Linked DNA regions of Homo sapiens: all the other regions are linked to region 3. The links come from fine-mapping of genetic effects on gene expression. A gene starts in region 3. Each other region holds a variant in brackets. All regions are shown on one strand. Distances are between the middles of the regions. Region 1 has its middle 36 kb from the start of PRLHR. Region 2 overlaps CACUL1 (CDK2 associated cullin domain 1). Region 3 holds the start of CACUL1 (CDK2 associated cullin domain 1). Region 4 overlaps CACUL1 (CDK2 associated cullin domain 1).

Evidence for each region. PIP is the estimated chance that this variant, and not a neighbour inherited with it, causes the effect.
Region 1: its variant is the best candidate, but not a certain one, in a credible set for the expression of CACUL1 in whole blood (INTERVAL, PIP 0.50).
Region 2: its variant is the best candidate, but not a certain one, in a credible set for the expression of CACUL1 in gastroesophageal junction (GTEx, PIP 0.70).
Region 4: its variant is the best candidate, but not a certain one, in a credible set for the expression of CACUL1 in whole blood (TOPMed, PIP 0.67).

Annotation. Positions count from the first base shown.
Region 1 is chr10:118,557,309-118,562,903 of GRCh38, forward strand. No RefSeq gene overlaps it. Among named protein-coding and RNA genes, the nearest start is that of PRLHR, 36 kb to the right of the region's middle. The variant G/T (reference allele first, on the strand shown) is at 2,668.
Region 2 is chr10:118,713,158-118,718,752 of GRCh38, forward strand. All of the region lies in intron 3 of CACUL1 (CDK2 associated cullin domain 1), which reads right to left. Among named protein-coding and RNA genes, the nearest start is that of CACUL1, 39 kb to the right of the region's middle. The variant C/G (reference allele first, on the strand shown) is at 2,945.
Region 3 is chr10:118,751,713-118,757,307 of GRCh38, forward strand. CACUL1 (CDK2 associated cullin domain 1) reads right to left here and starts at 3,258. Exons shown (of 9, transcript NM_153810.5): 1 at 2,684-3,258. The coding sequence starts at 3,050. RefSeq lists enhancers at 3,187-3,326, 3,325-3,619.
Region 4 is chr10:118,727,548-118,733,142 of GRCh38, forward strand. It overlaps CACUL1 (CDK2 associated cullin domain 1), which reads right to left. Exons shown (of 9, transcript NM_153810.5): 2 at 2,737-2,863; 3 at 1,748-1,850. Among named protein-coding and RNA genes, the nearest start is that of CACUL1, 25 kb to the right of the region's middle. The variant A/G (reference allele first, on the strand shown) is at 3,121.

The DNA.
Region 1 (5,595 bases), 190 kb before region 3:
GGCAGATCACTTGAGGCCAGGAGTTTGAGACGAGCCTGGCCAACATGGTGAAACTTCATCTTTAATAAAAATACAAAAAACTTAGCCAGGCGTGGTGGCGTGCACCTGTAGTCCAAGCTACTCAGTTGGCTGAGGCATGAGAATTGTTTAAACCCAGGAAGCAGAGGTTGCAGTGATCTGAGCTAGTGCCACTGCACTCCAGCCTCAGCAAAAGAGAGAGACTCTGTCTCAAAAATAATAATAATAACATTTTAAAATCATTTCTTATAATTTTTTATTGAGTAATAGACATTGTGAATCAAAAAAATGTGGAGCTCTGGATGATGTTATCTCTCTCCCAAATGGTTAAGATTTTTCTTCTTTTTCTTTTTGGTAAGTTAACAGATCACTTTATTCTATTGAAAGTTAATTTTAAGACTTTCTTAGAGTTCATCTCTTTCAGTTTTTCCCTCTCTTACAGAGCATGGTCCCTCTGAGATCTTAACAGAGAATCTGAGGCATTAACCAAACCTCTCCCAATTTGAAAGAACTTAAATTCCAATTTCTAGCTCCTCAGCAATGGTAAGCTTTGGGATCTCTACTCAGAAGTTCAGCCTCCCAACTGCTGCTTTCTGCTTGGCTCTTTGGAATCACTCTGTACGCGGAAATCTCAGGAGACAGCCAATGACCTAAGAGGCATTTTAGAGCTTCTCTCATTGCAGCTAAGTCTTTTCCAGAATTTTGTTCCTCAATCCTTTCCTGCTCTGGCAGACTCAGACTTCATCCATTGTCTCCTTGGCCCAGTCAGATTACAGCTTTCTGCTTGGCGAAGGCCTAGTGCTTATTGAACTGCAATGTGCCCGCCCTTAGGGGGAAAGCTGAGGTGAGTATCTAAGCATGGAACTCATTCCAAGTATTTCCTTTCATTCAGGGATTGTGCTTCCTTCAGTTCCTGCCTGTTTTGGCTGCCCTCCAGGGCCTTCACATCTGTATCTCAGCCTCCACATCCATGAGTTTTACATTCACAGATTCAACCAAGCACAAATTGAAAATATTCAGAAAAATAAAAAATAACAATACAACATTAAAAACAATATAAATTTAAAACACAGGATAACTATCTACATAGATTTGCATTGTATTATGTATTATAAGTAATCTGAGATGATTTAAAGTATACGGGAGGATGTGCGTAGGTTATATGCAAAAACTACACCACTTTCTATCAGGGACTTAAGCATCTACAGATTTTGGTATCCAGGAGAAGGTCCTGAAACCAACTCCCTGAGCTATAACTGTACATATATCTATATCCATAATGTGGATAATTTTTCCTCCAGCTTTTATCATTACTGTCAGGGGAAGAGCTAACTCAATACATGCTATTTTGACGGGAACTGGGACACTAGTTAGAACAATTTTTTATTGTGAAAGGAAACAGATCCACAAGACTGTCTTCAAATGAATTCTTACGTAAAGCCTAATATATAATACAGGTGAAAGAAAAATCTAGTCTAGTGTTGATCAGTTCAGTAGAAAGTGTCCAGGTTATCACCCAGAAGATGGGATATAGGGCTGGTTATATTCTTTGAGACTCCCAAAGTTTGAAAATCACCAAGAACAGGAAGAAGTGTGGGTTTTAGATTCAAAGAGACCTCAGTATGAATACCAAACCTACTGCTTACTAGCTATGTGTCCATGGGTCAACGATTTAACTTCTCGCAAGCTAGGCTCCTCATCTGCAAAATGGAGACAGTCATGCCTACCTTGCTTTTTTGTGAGAAGTTATTATAAGAATTATCACAAAGTACATGAAAAGCAGCTTGCACATTCCTAAGTATATAATGGACAGAATTATGTGCTTCTCAAAGGCAAGCATGTTTTCTCCATTTTTTTAACACACTTACCTACCATCCCAGCATTGAACACTTGGTTGCTGAATAAATACTTGTTGTTTTACTTGCCTTTTCTCCATTAAAAAGATTTTCATGTAAAACTAGGCCTCCATAGCCCTAAATCCTGAGCTATTATTATTCTGAAATAGCACAGTGGGACACAAGATCATATAGAGAAGAATTAGGCTAAACAGAGCTTTTAATTGCAAATGGAGGATAAATGAAGATGGGCTCCCATATTTGCACGCACATGAAAATTGACAGTTCAGATAGTGATATAAAATTGAAGCTGTTACCTATAATGCTTGATATGAATTGTAAACTGATCTTCTACAATAGCCTAAATATCTCTAAATACATTTAATGTAACCATTCATAGCAGGCTCTTTTTGAAAAATAAATTTCCTTTACTGACTGTGTAAATGGATTAATTGAAAGACAATCATGAAAGGCTTTGCCATTGTGTGATGATAGTCTTGTTAATAAAACATCATGAAATTTTTCTAGGAAAAAAAGATGAGTTTTCTGATTTCAACAAAAGGGAAAAATGTTCCTTGCAACACAACAAATTTAAGAAAAGCAAGAGAGTAAATATTACAAAGAGATGTTAATTAATCGGAAGACAAGAAAGAACACAGTAAAATAAACAAATTTCCAGAAAGTATTGTTTTTTAAAAAAGGAAAACAGATATTGAGAATTAGAAATAAGTAAAGAGATATAAACAAAGATATGGAAGACATTTTAAGTCATGGGAAAATAACATGTATAATTCTGTATTAATAAATTTGAAAA[G/T]TTTGATAAAATAGATGGTTTTCTAAGAAAACATAAATTTTCAAAATTATCAAAAAATAAATGGTAAATCTGAGCAGACTACTAGCCCTGCAAGAAATTCAAAAAGTAGGCTAATAATTGAAAACATAATTTAGAAAGATCCTGGGCCTACTTGGTTTTACAGGCTCTATCTTTTCTTTGAATTTTTAAGAAACTATCACTTCTATTTTATATAGTTCAATAAGTCTGTAAAAAATAGTAAGTTTCCCAATTCAATTCATTAAGCCTAGAACACTCTTGATACAGTGCCAAGAAAATAAAAAATTTGCATGAATATAAATACAAAGTAAAGTTACAAATCAAGTCAAGTAGTGTTTTGAAATAATAATAACACCATAACCAACCATGATTTGGAATGCAAGCATGGTTCAATACCAGGAAAGCTATTAATGTGATTTATCACATCAGTAGATCAAAGAAGGCATTACAATAAGAAGAGAATAGTTAGAGGCTAACAGTCAGATTTAAAAGCCAGGGCCCCTGGGTTAGAAACCTGGCTTTTCCACTTCCACTGTGACTTTTATCAAGCAATCTAAGGTCTGTGCCCAATTCTCTTGCTATAACATGGGACATATTGTAAATGTTTTTTTCTTAATTTTCTATATATTATAATGTTTTGGTGCCTTTAAATAAACTTTTCTGGCTGGGGAGAGACTGTTCTTCCTAGAGCTAGTGAATTCTTGGAGGTTATAAGGGTCCAGACTGCAGCGTGCCTTTGACATGCAAACTCACCAGTCCAGAGCCACACCTCCTCTCTCTGGCCCTACATTCCGGGAGACAGTATTCCTCTGCCTTAGTCATCCCAGGGCCAGATACCAGGCAACTAGGGACCACCACCCCTTTAGCCCAAAGCTCACTGAAATTATCCAGACTGGCCAATCCTAAACTGTTCACATTGCCCTGCCTTGCCTTGCCTTTCCCTTGGAAACCCCAAGAAAAGGCAGTGACTTAAGCCTTCCCCCACCCCTGTCTTCTCTCTCCTGACCATCTGGTGTCGTTCCCATGTGGTCCCGCATGGTGTGCCCTGTACTTCCTGTCTCTGGGACCATGAGTATAATAAACTTCATTTTTTTTCCAGAGCCTTTCCTCTGTCTCCTTTTGTGGCCACATGTGACACCCACATAAAATAATACTACAAAATATGAGAATACTAACATTACATACTTTGTGGGGTTATTGTGAGAATTAAATAAACTAACACATGTAAAAGATGTTTACATCAATGCCTGGTGTATAGTAAATCCATAAAACTAATACTTGCTAGATATAATAAAACCTAAATCATCATCTCTATAAATGCCAATGATAAACTTTACCATCCTTCTCTGTTAGAAACTCTTGGTAAACCAGGAATAGTTCAACACCATGAAAATTGTCTATCCCGAACTAATAACTAACATCACTCCTCTGAGACAATAAAGGGACACCCACTAAAGCCAGGAGTAGGATCCCAATGGCCACTATCACCCCCTTGGCCTCCACCAGATAAGTTCCCAAGACAACCTGACCACAGTGAGAACGAAATGGCTCTCTAACTGCAATTTTATTTTATTTGTAATCAGATTTCTTTCTTCATTTTCTTGATCCTAGGTTAGGATTAAAATAATTTAAGTTATTAAATCATTTCCTCTCACACCAAGCCTGGCACAAAATGCACAAAGTGAGAAGCAAAGTGGCAAAGTGTCCCAAGAATGCTGCCAACAGTGATGCATAGCTCCATGATGAGATGTTGAGAGCTTCACTGGGGATGCAAACTCCAATTAGAGAATTTGACACTGGAAGAGAATTCACGACTTGTTCTAAGTCACCTTTCCTCTCTGACCTGGGTTCCCTCTTATAGAATAAAAATAGTGTGATCCAAGTAACTTTTGATGACAGTATTTAGACAACATGTCCTCACACTAAAACTTAAAAAAAAACAAAATACTGAACAAATACTGAACTCTAGTTAATAAGGTATTTTTTCCCCCACAAAGCCATGGGTTAGCAATTCTGAAACTAGGACTGAATAAATAAATAATATACCGAGGAACATGGGAGCCAGTTTCCCCACTGGTAGAGAAAGGAGTTACAAATACACGAGAAGGAAGGCGAGAATATGCTCTGTAGGACATGACTGAAATTTGGGGTATCAGTGGGAATTAATGAGTTTTAAAATATACACATTGCTCAATACAAAAATAAAGATAGATGCATGTGTGTGTGCATTCATTTATTTCTAAGCTCTGCCCACTGTGAGGGCCTAGAAGCAATGACATCCACCTAGTAATAAACCCCTAGCACTAAAACATTGGCACAAGACCCGTCTAAAAAAATAAAGAAAGAAAGAAAAAGAAGGAAAGTTCTTCCTTACAAAGGAGAAACAAAAAATATTGTATTAATAGAAGAAACAATAAAATTAGAAAATCACCATCATGATAACAATTGATTAAAGTCAGAATAACATATGGATCCTTAAACTAGTGGGTGAAATTTTTATTTTTACACATGAATATGTACATAGTCACAAATTACCTCTCCATACGATATTTATTAACGATAAATAGCAAACTAGTAACTTGACAGTAGAGAAACTTAGCAGACACCACCTTAAGTGATCGATGTTAACATCATCAGTTATGAGTCAAATTAAGATCCTGTGCCTCCTGATACAATGTACTGAGAAGAATACAACATCACTTATAATGTACTCCTGCCAAAAGGGCATAACCTGAAACTGACAATGAGGAAACATCAGACACACCCAAAGGAGGGTCATTCTGAAAAATGAACTGCTCTATACTCTTCAAATGTAAACACATGAAATACAAAGCAAGTCTTAGGGTCTATTCCAGTTTAAAGGATACTAAGGAGTCATGGCAACTGAGTACACCACACAATCCTGGGTTT
Region 2 (5,595 bases), 39 kb before region 3:
ACTGCCCTCAGCGTGTGCACAGCTGGCCAGGCTGCGACAGCACCTGGGCTCGCCCCCAACTTTGCTCCAAGATCAGAGTCAGTGCCGACAACTTGGAGAAGCCAGGCAGTAGTAACAGACACTTCTGAGCCTTCGAGGGCAGGGGGTCCTTCCTGGGCCCCCAAGAATGCAGGGATGCCTGAGTCCACAGCTGTGGATTGGGTGGCTGCAGCAGCACCCAGTGTGCTCCCACCCCAACTCAGAAGAGGCTCTTGCCGGCTCCATGGAGCATGCAGCCCCACCTGTTGACGCCTCCCTGCTACAGCAGCGTGATGGCAGTGGCCACTCCAGATGGGCCGCCACTGCCATCACCATTACTCCAAACTTGCTCCAATTTTTCTTAACAGATCTGGATTCCCTGAATTTTGTAATATAACTGTGTGAGAATATTTTTTAAATAATGAGTAATGTATTCATCTGGTTTAAAATTCAAATGAGTTCAAATGGGTTTAGAGTAAGTTTTCCTTTCATTCCTTCCTCCCTGAACCAACCAATACTTTTTATATCCTTCCAGAAGAACTTTATGCCTATACTAGAAAATAAATGTCCCATTTATAGTTCTTTATACACAAATGCTAAGGTATAATCACACATACCTGCAACTTTCCCTAACAATGTATATCTTGTAGTCAGTTTTATTCCAGTGGTTCTCGCTAACTTTTGGTCTCTGGAAACCTTTACATTTCTAACAACAACTCAAGATTCCAAAAAGCTTTTTGTTTATATGCAGGTTGTATCTGTAAGTATTTACCATAATAAAAATTAAAACTAAGTTCTAAAAATACTTATTAATTCATTCTAAAATGACAATAACAAACTCATCACCATCTTATTTTTATAAAAAATAACTATTTACCAAAACAAAATTTAGTAAGAGGAGTGTCACTGTTTTTACATTTTTGCAAGTCTCTTTAGAGCCTAGCTTAATAGAAGACAGCTGGATTCTCATATCTGCTTCTGCAATGAAATCAGTTGTGATGTGTTATTTTCTGAAACGATCAATGAATGTTTTGTACTCTATTCCATTAAAAACCACGGGTCTATCTTCTACTTTAAATGGATCTTTTCTGTATACATTTTATTACATCACACATTGGTCATTTGGAAAATACTGATTCTCTGAGTTATGTAGATCTTCCCAATGTTGATTTCATTAGACGGTATCAAAAAAATACATCTCTGATGAGACAGTATTAACACCTATCTCATCAGAAATCTTTTTAAGTATTGGGAAGCTATCAAGGTCACAGTGGTAGATATAAATTTTCCAAAATTTTAATTTTCACTTCAAAGCACAAGTTTCATTATTGGCAACAAATACTGTCAGTCATTTTCCTGGAAGTGACAATCTTAGTTCACTAATTTCTGAGAAAATGTCTGTCAAATACCAAAGTCTAACCGTAGTTTGTCAGTCTTTTTTTCAAGTGAAAATACCGTTCTATGCAGAAAAGCAGGGTTAGTTCAAAATTCATACAATCACATAAGCACCTTTTCTCAAAACCACCACTGTACTCTGGTATGCGGTGTCCCATTTCTTTACATAAAATATTTTTTAAAGTATAAAGTCACAATTTAATAAAATTAATAATTTTCTCTGTTTCATCTGGGACATTCTTAATGAAAATGGCTTCCTCACCCCGCAAGCATGTGGAAATGAAAATTCATGCTAAGGCACCAGCGTCTATCCATCATTACTTACAGACCCCCCTGAAAGGCTTTTGGGGACCCTCCGAAGTCCTCAAAACACACACACTTTAGGAATATCTATTTCTGTAAGATGCTTGAATGTACTATTTATTTAATCAGAGGTCATATTGATAGCTTCGTGCTAATCCTTTGTTACCAGATTGTTGCACTGAGTAACTTCATATAGATGTTATAGACAATAATTTCAAAACAACCTTTAAATTAAAAAAGGTAGAACTAGATAATAGTCTTATGCATAATTATATTAAAAATAATTTCAGTTGTCCAGTTTAAATAGTGAAATCTGCGAAATACCACTAAAAATATATATATACACATACATGGTCCTAGTGTGAGAAATGCCTTACAGCAAGAAAGGAAAAGACAGATTTGATATACATACCACACCTTCACAGAAGGGAAGGGGAAAGAAAGCTTGTCATCTTTAACTTTCAAAGCTAAACAAGGAAGGTTGATTGGTCAGTCACCCGAATTTGATGTATATTAATAATTTTAGAAGAGGATTATTTGTTTAAATAATTTTACTAGTCAAGAGACTTAAATATACTATCATGTGGGTCAGTACTGCCCAAAGGAACTTTCTGTGGTGATGGGAATGTTCTAAATCTGCACTGTCCACTATGGTAACCACTGGCCACGTTTGGCTATTGAGCCTTGGAATATGATTAATTAAACTAAGGAACCAAATATTTACTTCATTTTAATTGTAATAGTTACACATAACTAACTGGACAATGCAGATGTAAAATACAAACGAGTTCTACAATTTCATATTTATATCCCTCCTCCTCTACCTACCCCCATCCTCGTCCCCAGCCAACCGAAATGAAACATGAAAAAAATTAAGAATATGTGCTTTTATCTTCACAAAAGCATTCTGGTTGTCTTCAAATAAGTAAGTGACTTTTGCATGCTAGAATGAAGTAGACAAGAAGGGATGGAAGAGAAGGACCTACTAAACATGACAAAACATGTATCTTTGTAAAAGTAATGTACGTTCATTGAAATTTTTAAAAATTTAAAATGCAACTATGGAAAAATAACCACTACCGGCTGGGCGCGGTGGCTCACACCTGTAATCCCAGCACTTTGGGAGGCCAAGGCAGGCGGATCACGAGGTCAGGAGGTCGAGACCATCCTAACACGGTGAAACCCCGTCTCTACTAAAAATACTAAAAATTAGCCGGGCGTGGTGGCA[C/G]GCGCCTGTAGTCCCAGCTACTCCGGAGGCTGAGGCAGGAGAATGGCATGAACCTGGGAGGTGGAGCTTGCAGTAAGCCAAGATTGCGCCACTGCACTCCAGCCTGGGCGACAGAGCAAGACTCCGTCTCAAAAAAAAAAAGAAAAAGAAAAAGAAAAAAATAACCACTACCAACATTCGTAGAAAATTATTACCATTTTGGTATTTTTTTTTTTTTTCCTGTGTGCATGTGTCTGTTTCTAAACAAATATGGCTTATTTTGTAACCTGATTTTATCGCCCAACTATAGATCGTCACCATCTCTCCCAGGTCAAATTTCTTTCTATAACCTAATTTTAACAACTGTTTGGACACATCATTGCCTATTTCATCAGTCCCTTGTCACTGGATACTTAGGCTATGCTTTGCTGTTTATGTTATCCAGGTCTGCACGGATACTTCTAATTCAGACTAGCATTCCAGCTGTGCAAATGTGTTGAGTGGCATCAGCAACAACACAACCTCTTTTTTTTTTTTTTTGAGACAGAGTCTCACTCTGTCACCCAGGCTGGAGTGCAGTGGCGCGATCTCGGCTCACTGCAAGCTCCACTTCCCAGGTTCACGCCATTCTCCTGCCTCAGCCTCCTGAGTAACTGGGACTACAGGCACCCGCCACCACGCCTGCCTAATTTTTTGTATTTTTACTAGAGACACGGTTTCACCGTGTTAGCCAGGGTGGTCTCGATCTCCTGACTTCATGATCCACCCGCCTCGGCCTCCCAAAGTGCTGGGATTACAGACGTGAGCCAACGAGCCCAGCGCACTATCTTATTCTTAAACATAAGCTACACTGCACTCCCTGCTTAAGAGAGACTAGGTTCAGGAACAATGGTACATTTCCATACGCCAGTGGACCTCAAAGAATGCTTCTCTCCGAATCACCTGAAGGGACTGGTAATGACGCAGATTCCTTTGCCACACTCCAAAGTCTTGATTCAGAAACTTTCCAGAGGTGTGTATTTTTAGTGAGAACTTCAGGGAAGTCTGTAAACAGCTGGCCCACCTGTTAAGCATTTAGGAACCCTACACCTTAAGCCTCTTCCAAGAAATGAGAGGAGCTCTACAGGAAGGAAGTCTGCAGGATTCAAGAGAAAACTGAGCAGTAATCACCCATGTAACACAGGCATTTACTGCAGGACAATTTAGCTGCAAACTGCACTGAAATCAGTAAAAATATGATGCACTAACATTTTAACATTAACATAGGTGAATTTTTCCTCTTAAAAGTTAATGGCTTCTTGACTAGTATCAAATTCAGGGAGTATAAAGTTATCAAAATATAACTCAAGTTCCCCCTCAGCTTAGAATGCAGAAAGCTGTGAAAGAACATCACTCCCACTCTTATGGTAAGAAAAAGCTGGTTAACCAAAATAATCATAATTTTTCGAGCTCATCAGACACCTAAGGTTTCTTTAACTTACATCTGCAATGTTCAACTAGGTGAGAAGAATTTCAGAGTGACAAGCTCCTCTAAAAAAAAATAAAGGACACATGGACTATTTCTCTGTTGGTGATGGTAGTCATAAAAGCAGATAAGCAAACAACAGAAATTGTAATGAATCATTAAAGGCCAAGTGTGAACTAACAGTGTAGAATCCCTGGGAGGCTTCAACACAAGGGCAGTCAGCACCAGCACCTCCTCTCCAACTCTTTTCCATGGGTTTCCACTGGGTCATCAAGAGAAGGACTGGGGGCAGTGAAAGAAATCTGAGAGGCCATCCTCCATAGCAAGATGTGCCGGGCTTAGTAAGACCTGAGGATGAAGCAGGAATACCTAAAGAAGCCGATGAACACATCATGGGGTCCTCCATGACAAAAAAAGGTGGTGATTAACTGCCAATGGAAGACATGAACAAAAACTGCCTGTGCCCTAGAACCTACCCAGATTCAAAGCAAAAGCCATTTGCTGAAAGGAAGGGGTAAGAAACCCTGCAACCTGGTGACCCTTCTTTGACCTTAGGCAAAAACTGTCTACCACTGGAAGACAGGCAGGTGATCCTCCAGCCCTCCTGACAAGCAAAGGTCAGCAACCATTTTCAGGATGGTAGAAAATCCACTCATGCCCAGGTTTCCACACTGTTATGAAGCAAAAATATACTGCTGCTGATGGAAGCACAGGAAACTTGCTTACTCCCAAGGTTCCCCAAAGATACAAGGTAAAATTTGGTTGCCACAGGGTGTGTGGGGGGCAGGACAGGGAAGGGGAGAGTCGGGGAGGGAACTCACCTGCACACCAAACCAGAGATCAACAAACTAGAGGCTGTGGGCCAAATCTTGTCTACACCCTGTTTTGATTAAGTACAGTTGTTTTGAAACACAGCAATGCCCATTGTTTATGTAATCTGTGTGGCTGCTTTCACCTGCACCAGCAGAGTTAAGCACAGGAGCTAGACAAACACCTCACGGCCCGTGAAGATATTTACTTTTATTTTATTTATTATTCTTATTTCTTTGAGAGGGAGTCTCGCTCTGTTGCCCAGGCTGGAGTGCAGTGGCGCAATCTCGGCTCACTGCAAGCTCCACCTCCCGGGTTCACGACTTTCTCCTGCCTCAGCCCCAAGTACCTGGGCCTATAGGCGCCCGCCACCACGCCCGGCTAATTTTTTGTATTT
Region 3 (5,595 bases):
AGGCTATTGAGTTTGTCAAACCAAATGTAATTTTGACGTCATTTAAACTGAATTTATAAATTGGAGAAAATTAGTATTCTTGTAAGTAATTTGATCCAAGAGCAAGGAAAATTGTACCATTTATTTAGATTATCCTCTAGTTTCTTTTTCAAGTTTTAAAGTTTCCTTTTTAAAGGTCTTGCGTATTCACGGGTTGATTCCTAGAGACTTTAGAGTTTTGTTGCTATTATTACATATAGTATTTACTTTTGATTATCTTTACTAGTTATCACTAGTTTAGTAAATGCTATCAAATTTTTGTAAGTTTATCTTAAATCCAGCAATCCTGCTAAACTCTTACTAGTTCTAAGTTTTCTCTGGATTTTAATGGTTCATCTAGGTAGGTGATCATATTATCTGCAAATAATAACTTTTATTGCTTCCCTTACAATCTTTATACCTTATTTTTTTGCTCCTTATAATGTTAGCCAGGACCTTCCTACAATGCTAAACAGTAGTAATGACAGGAGCATCCTTATCTTGTTACGGATCTTAAAGTATATGTATCTAAAATTTCTCCATTAAGTATTATTATTTACTGAAGGTTTTTGGTAATGACCTTTATCTAGTTATCTTGTACTCCTAGGTTACCAAGAGTTTTTATCATAAATAGCTGCTGGATCTAGTTGAATGATTTCAGGGCACCAATTGAGATAATCGTAATTTTTTTCCTTTAGTCTATTAAAGAGCTAAATTAGATAAGTAGATGTTAAACCATGCTTTCATCTCTAGGACTAACTCTATGGATCAGGACTCTGTAACACACTGTTGGATTTGATGAGCGAGTATTTATTCTGCAGTATTTTCATTTCTATGCTAAGTAAAACAGACCTATAATTTTCTCTTCTTACATGTCCTTATCTGTTTTAGAATCAAGATTTCACAAGCCTCATAAAATGAACTTGGTATTTTTTCTATTTTCCAGTGCAACTTGCAAAAAGAATTAAGTGTTAAAGTATGGTGGAACTCATCAGCGTATCTGGATGCAGAGCTTCTAAAAAGGGAGATCTTTACCATTTCAGTTTATTAGTTCAAGATATTTCTTCTGATACCAATTTTCACATTTACTAGTTTTCTAAGAACTATATTTTTCATTTAGGCTTTCAAATTCATCAGCCTAAGTTCATAACGTTCTTTTTTTAATCTGATATTTGTAGTTATTTTCCATTTTTCATTTATTTGCATCTTTTTTTCTTGTCGTTTTTATCAGAGGTCTGTCTGCCTAGCTTACTCATCTTTTCACAAAAATAATCTTTTGGTGTGACAAATCCTTTTGTTCTCAATTTTACTGATTTCTGTTCCTAACTTTATGCTCTTTTTTGAACTCTTCAAAGGAACTTTACTAAGGCAATCTTCCTTCGTGACTCAGGTGAAGTCATTCTGCCACTCTACAGGAGGTCTGGTTCCACAACACAGCCTTCAACACACAAACTATACAATATAAACATGATTATCATGAATAAGGAGAAAAAGCGTATATAATCTTACCAAACGTACATATCAATGTCTTTGACTAAGGCAGTATCTTGGGGCAAATAAAATTACGCGCTGTTCCCACACACAGTGTGTAAGATTCCGACTATCTGCATCAAGGCAAATATTTTCTCTGCACAGCTAACTGGACAAGTACAGCTTCATAAAATTAGTAGCTAGAAATGAACTCTCCAGTTGCTTTACCAGATGCCACTCAAAACTTGCAGTTAATAATAGGAGAGAAAAACCTGGCTGTGATGGTCACAATCATTTTCAACATCCTATCACCACCACCACCGCCACGCACACATACACACAAACCAAAGTAAAAGCACATTCTTTTCCTAGCTATGGAAGCATACATATATCCTGGTCAGAGGCAGTTTCGGATTACAAAACAGATTTTGGTCTTAAATCTTAATGCGTGCAATTGAGCGTTAAGACAGACTACTAACATAAAGTTCAACATGCAACCCAATCTTGGGTTTGGACACAAGACATAACCCATCCTGAAAGGCTTATTCTTATGAGTGTAAGCTCTGAAAAGTGATTTTATGCATTATTAGCTTCAAGACGATGTCGGAGCTGCCACTGCATCGGAAAGCAACTCATTATTTCCCTAGCAGGATGCAAAAGTGTAACACAGTAGAGAAGGAACAAGGTGTAGATATAGGTCAACTTTCAAATTCCTTACTTGTTTAACACAGCCTGGCCAAAAACACAAGAACACAAGTTGCCAGATTTCTTTTCTCTCTCTGGCTGCAGAAGACTGAAGGCCTTTCCCTAACGAGACTCAGGCAGCCTTATTTTCCCCTCACTTTGAGGGTGAAACTTCAAGAGAAGACGGGTGCGAAAAGAGCTTCCCAATGTTGAGAGACTGCCAGTTGTGATAGGGATCGCACTGACCGAACTTGGGGCTCCGTGTGTACCAGGCTGCCTCTCTAGGCCAGGTAATACAAGAAGCCAGGGCCGCTCAGGCGCTGGCCGCAGACACCAAATGAGGGGGAGGGGACGGTGAGGGGGAAGGAGGCAGGGAGGCGAAGGCGGACGGGGAGAAGAGGAAAGACCGAGGCCTGAAACAAAGGAAGCGGAGCTTTCTCCAAGAGGGGGTGGATTCGGCGTCCGAGTGAGGTGGAGAAAAGCCAAGGCTGCAGGGAAAGGCTGGACTCACAGAACTTGGAGGTGGAGGTGTTGATGTTGATGGTGGAGCTGGCGGTGGGGGCGGGGGCCGCCTTGGCCACGGCGGCGGCCGCGTCGCAGCTCTTCAACATCATGATCACCCCATTAGCCTCCGGCGGTGGCTGCGGCCCCATCGGGAGCCCCTCCTTGGGGCCTTTCCTGTCCACGGAGACCGCGGGCACCGCCAGCAGCTGCCCCCCCGGAGGCTCTCGGGCAGGGGCCGGGATCGACGAGGGGGGCGGCGGAGGTGGCAGGGGCTGCCGGAAGCCGTCCACCGCAGCCTCCCAGTTGTTGTGGTTCTGGTCGTCCATCATCGCCTCGTAGCTGCCCCCCTCCTCCTCTTCCATGCTTTCCTCCATCCTGCTGGCCCCCGGCACCCGCCCGCCTCACAGGCACCTGCCGCCTGTCTCAACCCCGGGCCAGCGGGCACCGCTGCCTCCCCGAGTTACATCGCCGGCGGCAGGAATGGGCGCAGCGGAGAGGGCTGCGGTGCGCAGGGTCTCTCGCTCTCCGCGGGGCCGACTAGCTTGAAGACGCGGCTGACGGCGGTGGGCGCTCCGGGGCTCTAGTCTGGGAGAGGCAGCCGTAAAGCAGCGGCGCTCCTCACGACGTTTTACAGCGGCTTCCAACAGGCAGTTGGAAAGGGCAGCTGGGGGCGCGGCCAGGAGGGCACGTGGTGCGAGGGACTGGCCGCGAGAAAGCGGAGCCAAAAGGGGCGGGAGCTGTGAGTCACTCCCACGCAACAGGGCAGAGGTTCGCCCCGCCTCGGCTGGCAGGGAGCTAACAGGGGAGGCGCGACGGGTCGGGACGGGCATTCGCCGGCCCCGCCCCCTGCCCGGCCTCACGTGACAAAGGTGTGTCTTGCGCACGCGCGTTCGCAATCTGGTTACCATGACGACGAGGCCCTCGCCGGTTCCTGAGGACGCGCGCGGAGCAGTCTTGGCAGTAGCTGTGGACTGGCCAGAGTGATTGGAGGTGTTTTCCTCGCGTCCTCCAAGTCTACGGGGCCTTCGCACCTCTGAGTGCCTGAGAGCCCCGGCTTTTGCTTGGGACGGAGGTACGGGACCACAAGAGGCCCCGGGGTCGCAGGTTATAAACGGATGAGACCGCCCTGGGCGGCCCGTGGTCCGACTGCTCTTGGGTCGGTCCCCAGCCGTCGCGACACACACGCACAAAATCGAGAATAAAAACCGAATCACACATAGCAGGATGGCGCAAAAAAGAAATGCGTTTGAGTTACTCATGTGTTTTTAAAATTCCTTTACGTTTGTATGCACTAAGGCCAGCAACCCAACTTTTAAAAATGCCGGCTCAGGCCGGGCGCGGTGGCTTACTCCTGTAATCCCAGCACTTTGGGAGGCTGAGGCGGGCGGATCACGAGGTCAGGAAATCGACACTATTCTGGCTAACACGGGAAACCCCGTTTCTACTAAAAATACAAAAAAGTTAGCCGGGCGTGGTGGCACGTGCCTGTTGTCCCAGCTAGCTGCTCGGGAGGCTGAGGCAGAATTGCTTGAACCCGGGAGGCAGAGGTTGCAGTGAGCCGAAATCGCGCCACTGCACTCCAGCCTGGGCAACAGAGCGAGACTCCATCTCAAAAAAAAAAAAAAAATGCGAGCTGGGCGCAGTGGCTCACGCCTGTAATTCAACCACTTGAGGAGACAGAGATGGGAGGCCCGCTTGTGCCCAGGAATTCGAGACCAGCCAGACCAGCATAACAAGACCACGCCTCTAAAAACAAAATTAGCCTGGCATGGTGGCGTGTGCCTGTGGTCCCAGCTACTCTGGAGGCTTAGGTGGATCACTTGAGCCCTGGAGGTCAAGGCTGCAGTGAGCCGAGATCGCGCAACTGCACTCCAGCCTGGGTGACAGAGTGAGACTGTCTCCAAAAAAAAAAAGAGAATTAAGTGGTATGCTGAAGGGGAAAACATAAAACCTTAGAATTACATGTGTGGCAAAAAGAGAGGCAGAAGGAAGGCAAATTCTGTTTCAAACAACTAATGGTTTATCATCAACAGACTCTAGGTAGATGGCTGGGTGAGTGCGATGGGATAAAGAAGGGTCTTTACATTTAAAAAAAAAGTCCAATATACAGGGAAGATAGAGTCAAAAAAGTGTCTCTAACATACTGTGTCATAAAGCAAGTCTTTACATATCTAAGGATTTATATCATAGCGACTATATGGCCACAAAATATATGAAGCGAAAATGAACAGAAGTATAAGAAGACAAAGAAATCTACCATCAGAGTAGGTGATTTTTCACTCCCTCTCTAATTGCAGTGAGTTGAATACAGCCTCCCACAAGATATGTCCATATCCTAATTCCTAGAACTTGCGAGTATGACCTTATTTGGAAAAACGGCGTTTGCAGATGTAATTAAAGTTCTTGAGATGAGAAGATCATCCTGGATTATCCAGGTGGGCCATCAATCCAATGATAGGTGTCTTTATAAAAGAGAGGTAGAAGAGAAGAGAAGGTAATGTAACCACAGAAGCAGAGATTGGAGTGATGGCATTCCCAAGTCAAGGAATGCTGACAGCACCCAAAGCTGGAAGAGACAAATTTTCCTCTTGAGCCTCTGGAGGGATTGTGACCCTGCCAACATGTAGATTTCAGACTTCTAGATGCCAGAACTGAGAATTCATGTCGGTTTTTTTAAGCCACCTATTGTGATAATTTGTTAAGCAACTGATTACAGGAAACTAATACATAGACCGAGGGGACCAAAAAAATCTTTAAGGTACTGGAAGAGTTGAGTAACACAATTACCAAGCTTAATCTAATATATATGTGTAGAATATTGCCTTAATGACCATAGAATACACACTCCTATCAAGAATATGCTAAACATTTACAAAAATTGAACATACTGTGTCATAAAGCAAGTCTCCACATATCTAA
Region 4 (5,595 bases), 24 kb before region 3:
ACACTGTGATATATACAGAACTGATGGGAATGCAACTTGATACAACTTCTGTGAACCACAATTTAGACTTAGTAAACGACATTACTTACAAGACTGACTATTCACTTCAGCACTGTTAGTAATGGCCAAAGACTGGAAGTAACCTAAATATTCATCAATCAAAAACTGGTTAAATTAAGGTGTATCAATGAAGTAAGGCAGTTGAGATAAGCATTTCAGTAAAACAGTCGAGAAATGATGATGAACCTGACTAGGGTACTGGCAAATGAACAGAAGTGTGTGACAGAGTCCACAGCGAGACCCGAAGTCCATAAACTGGATTCAGGTAGAAATTCAGGTAGATGGTGGAGTGAAGAATTAGAAAGCAAATCACTCAAAAGCTATAAAGCATAGATCTAGGGTTTCATCAACAATTTATACACAATGCCTAAGCACTAAACATATGTGTTAAATGAATAAAGATTTTATAGTTAGCGGCAAAAAGATGAAGAAAGAAATTTATACTAACAACAAGAAAAGTATATATCTGACTATGACAAAACACAGCTCTATCATTTGAAACAGAAAACAAAATGCTACTTAGTGCAACAACTGTTTGGGGAAAAAAAACACAAAAAAACTAAGCTATCTCAGACCACAAGTTGTGAAGAACAATATCCAAGCCCAAAGCACACCCCAGCATGTGCTATAAACTGTGGTTATTTCAAAACTGCTGGGGTGCTTCCTAATTGTGGTATAGACCCTGGTAATCTATTGCTGAGTGACTTTTCTTTTTTTTTTTTTTTGAGACGGAGTCTTGCTCTGTCGCCAGGCTGGAGTGCAGCGACGCAATCTCGGCCAACTGCAACCTCCGCCTCCCGGGTTCAAGCGATTTCCCTGCCTCAGTCTCCTGAGTAGCTGGGACTACAGGAGTGTGCAATTTTAGTAGAGACGGGGTTTCACCATGTTGGCCAGGATGGTCTCGATCTCCTGACTTCGTGATCTACCTGTCTCGGCCTCTCAAAGTGCTGGGATTGCTGAGTGATTTTTCTAGACATTCTTCTACTTCTATACCAAAAGCAAAGTGGGATCAAGCCCTGGTATAAAGATTATTTGGTTGGTGCAAAAGTAACAGAGGTTTCTGTCATTATTTTCAAAGGCAAAAACCACAATTCCTTTTGCACCAACTTAATAATACCTGATCTTCAAGCACTGAAGGTTTACTGAAGTGGGCAGGGGGAGGATCAAGCTAAGTGCTCCCTTAAACAGGAGTTTTTCTGCAACCTGCCCCAGATTTTAGAGCTGAGATGATGCCTATTTACAGGAGGTTTATCAATAAAGTGTTTACTTCAGTTGTTTATATTGAAAGGTATTATAAATCAGTAGGCAAACCACTCTTCAAAGATGATAATACGAGTTCCAAAACAAGTTAAAATATGCACATATTTTTGTATCATAAAAGTCACCAAATATTGACATTGACAGAAAAAAATAAAGTTTTAAATAAAAGAAATGTTGACATGATAATCAATAGAATCAGTTAAGGTCTGAAATATATTTAATCCAAAAATTTCCACAATTTATACCAAATTTTCAAATTAACAATCTATTCCAAAAATTACATGATTTGATCAACATTCACCTAGAAAACATTTATAAATTTATATCATAATCAAATTAACAAGCTTCCAAATGTGTATTAGAAAAGCTAACTGCAACCAGTCAGGAAAACCCAAGGAAGCAAAAATCAATACAATCAGTTCTTTACCTGCAGCTCCTTTGAGACTCTCTCTAAGTGATTAGTTATCTTTTTAATCAGATCACTATACATCTGTTCCGAGTGCTGCTGGCATACACATTTATACACACAACTGTAAAACAAACAAAAACCCCCACAAACCAAGTTAATCATAAAGCACTTAACTCAGTCCAAGGTTAAAGCACACTTTTGATATATAACCACTGATCCAATAATTCATACCTTCAAAAAGTAACCAATCACAACTTTTAAATAAAAACTTTATCCTCCCCCATCGGTGTTCGGATGGAAAAGATAGTACCATCTGCTATAAATATGCCCTTCTAAGTAGTGTATTACACATTTAATCAGTACTAGAGAATCTAATAGTAGGTGAGAATCTAAGGTCTGAATATGATAACTATTTATAAACCAGGTTCTCTCTCTCTTTTTAAATGAATGTCAAAATAAGGAAGAGAGAGTGGTTGATAATCAGTAGAGAGAGGTTTCTAACTCACGGAAGTGTTTGCAATACAACCTCTTTGTACATCAGCTGTGTGGAACAACATACTTGTCACTTCCTCCTTTCACTGTGCTGATCTCATATCCCACCCCACTTCCTAATTTGCTGCTTCCATTAACAGGAGCTGAGAAACAAAATAACCAAAGAGAGTTAGAATTGTGTGTCAATAAACACCAACAGATTAAGGTCTCCCTCTGAGACTAAAAATATGATTTTTACACCAGATACTTCAGTCATTCTTGCTTTTATTGCTGACTTCCACAGTGTCTGCATTATGTATGGTGGAGGTGGCAGGCTTCCTCTGTCATGATCTGAAAACCACTTTTGAATCAAAAAGTATAAACCAAACCCTCCAATCCGTAAGTGTGGAATACATAAAACACTTACAGAGCCTCATCTTATGCATTCTACATTACATGTTTGTGTGAGGCATAATTCAAGTGCCTTGAACCTTAGTATACCCTTTCAAACCCAAGCAAATTAAATCTTAACTTACCTGTATATCTGTTCATAGGATATGGGGATATAGTCACCAGGACTCTGAGTTAAAAGTTGATCTATGGCACCATCCAATTTTGGCCAGTATGTGCTCTTATAATCTTCAATAGTTATAACATTCATTACTAAAAGTAAAAAGTAAAATAAATATTACTACGTGCCACATGTGGAGCAAACACAAATCACAGCCATTTTGCACTCTCAAATTCCTCTCACTTACTCTTCTGATTTTACACTGACACTCTATCACCTAACTATCCTATTTCAATTAAAAACAAAAAAGGCAACCTGGTCAAGGATGTTAAGCAGCCATTAATCATGGATTTAAGAGAAGTTAGTATGAACCTGTCCATCTTTAAAAATAACAACCAAACAAGCAATC[A/G]TCACTGGCTTCCTTCTGGGTTTCCTGTAAGCTTCTGTCATTAGTGGAGCAGTCTCAAACATGCTCTGACCCTCAAATACACACTGCCAATTATGTGACAAAATGGCCTATCAATGAACCACAGGAAAATTTGGAGAAATCGTGAACACCAACAATCAATCTTTGTAGACATCCTCGAGGAAATGTGCCTAAGGACAGGACTATGAGGATTAAGGTCCAAATGCTGCAATCACAAAGAGGTTGCTGTAAAACTTGCCGAGATTTACAACAACACCAGCACCTCTTCATCATTACTACAGCTCCAACTCAGGCTGCTACTATCTTAAACTGGATAAGCCCAACAGAAAAGAAGTCAGTGAACTGGGACCCTGCGCTGAGGCTTACTTCATTCCTACAGACAGGCTCTTACTCCCACACTACAGGTTTCCACAAAGCATTTGTACAGTGGATCCTAACAGCTTTGAAATCCAGGTAACAGTTGCTTCACGGCACTGAAATGTTAATATTAAAAAAAGAGCTACCAGAAGAACCTGCCTATATTCTGTGTCATGAATCACAGTTACCTCAGGAGTAACAACAACGAGACCAGGTATTTCACTGTTTATTTTACCAGACTAGGAAGCAGAGTGGTTAAGTGACTTCCTCAAGAACTCAAGGCTCATTACTGTCAGAGATACCAGGTAAAGCAAAGCCTTCCCAGTATCTTTTTATCACATTATCGATTTCCACACCTTAGTCATCCAGGTTCAAGATTTTTTTCTATGTACCATCTATATCATTTTTGTTCAATACTTTCTTTAAATCAATCCACTTCTGTTATTTAATTTTATTTTACAGGACATCTGAGGAATGAACTACTGAGGAATGTTCACAAAACAACATGGCATAATCTTAAATCCATTTTGCTAAGTGAAAGAAGCCAGACCCAAAGGGCTACATATTCTAAGAGTCCCATTTACATGATACTAATAAAGGCAAAACTATAGGGAGGAAAACAGATCAGTGGTCGACAGGGGCTGGAAGGTGGGGAGAAGGATTATCTATAAAGCAGTAGCATGGAGGAATTTTTATGGCAATTAACTGTTTTGCATGAAACTATGGTGGGGGATACACCACTTCACGCATTTGTCAAGACCAAAAGAACTGTACATCAAATTACTATGTAAATTTAAAAAATCAACAAGGCTGTAGTGGTAAAGATGAAATGCAAAACACAAAAAATGAACCGAATTACAAATGAATCACATAACCCACACTGAATGGAATGGGGAATAAAGGAGTGTTTTGACTAATGTAAAGCTAAAGACAAAAAGAACCGTACATGCACGTGCGCAAACATAACAGTAGGAAGAGGCCAGACATGTAGGTCCTTATGGGCCATTGTAAAGACTTTGACTTTTACTCTAAGGTGGAAGCCTCTCTGGAGGGTTTTGAGCAGAGGAGTGACATGATCTGGCTTAGGTTTTATATGGATCATTCCAGCAGCTGTGCTGAGGGTAAACTAAGTTTGGAGGCTGTGAGCTGATATGGGGTTGGGCCAGATGGTGGCACTGAGGACAATAAGGAGAGATCAGATTTTGAAGATATTTTAAAAACAGAGTCAACAAGATTTGCTGATAGATTAGATGTGAGATGTGAAAGAAAGGTCGAGTGGCTCCAAAGTTTTTGGCTTCAGCACCGAAGGATGGGGTTGTCGTTTACTAAAATGAGGAAGACTGCACGAAAAGCTTAGCTGTCCAGCGGGCATAGCAGATACTGTTGGTGCCCCACCCATTTACCCCATCCACACCCTACGACTACTTCTCTCAATGTTCTGTCCAGCTGCCAGAGCTTGCTCTGCTTGCGGGAGGAGCAGGTAAGAAATTGTGGGAGAATTAACCCCAAAGCAGCCTTCAACCAATGACTACTGAGGATTCAGTGTCATTACCACCAGTAGCTCCCTCTCCTTTTGGGTGAGGCGACTCTAAGGCCCCTGTGCTATACTGACTCCCAGAGCTCCCCACTGGTACTAAGCTCCAGCTGCCTACAGTGGTGACTTTACCTTACTGGCTTCCTTACCTTCCCTGCCTCACTTCCCCAATCCCCCTAGAGCTGCTTCCCAGGGTCACCGTCTTGCTCTTGATACTGAAAAGTGTTACACACTAGGCTCTAGAATATGACCTTTGTATTTATGTAATCCTTAGGATTCAAAGAAAACTGAAAAAGAAATTACATTCTCACTGTGTGATTCTGAGTTACAGAATCCCTTATCAGTGTACCACCTAAACCACATGAAATACCTCTCTACACCGAAAGTTGAGAGTTGAAGGTTAGATAACACGCTCAAAAAGAAAACTGCAAGTAGTAACACCAGTAATTAACATACCTATCTTCTGGGCTCCTAAAATGCTTAGTTCAATAAACCACATGCTATGGCTCCAGCTGGGAGCACTCCTACTTCTCAAGCACAGGCTTCGCACTTTAGCAAATCACCAA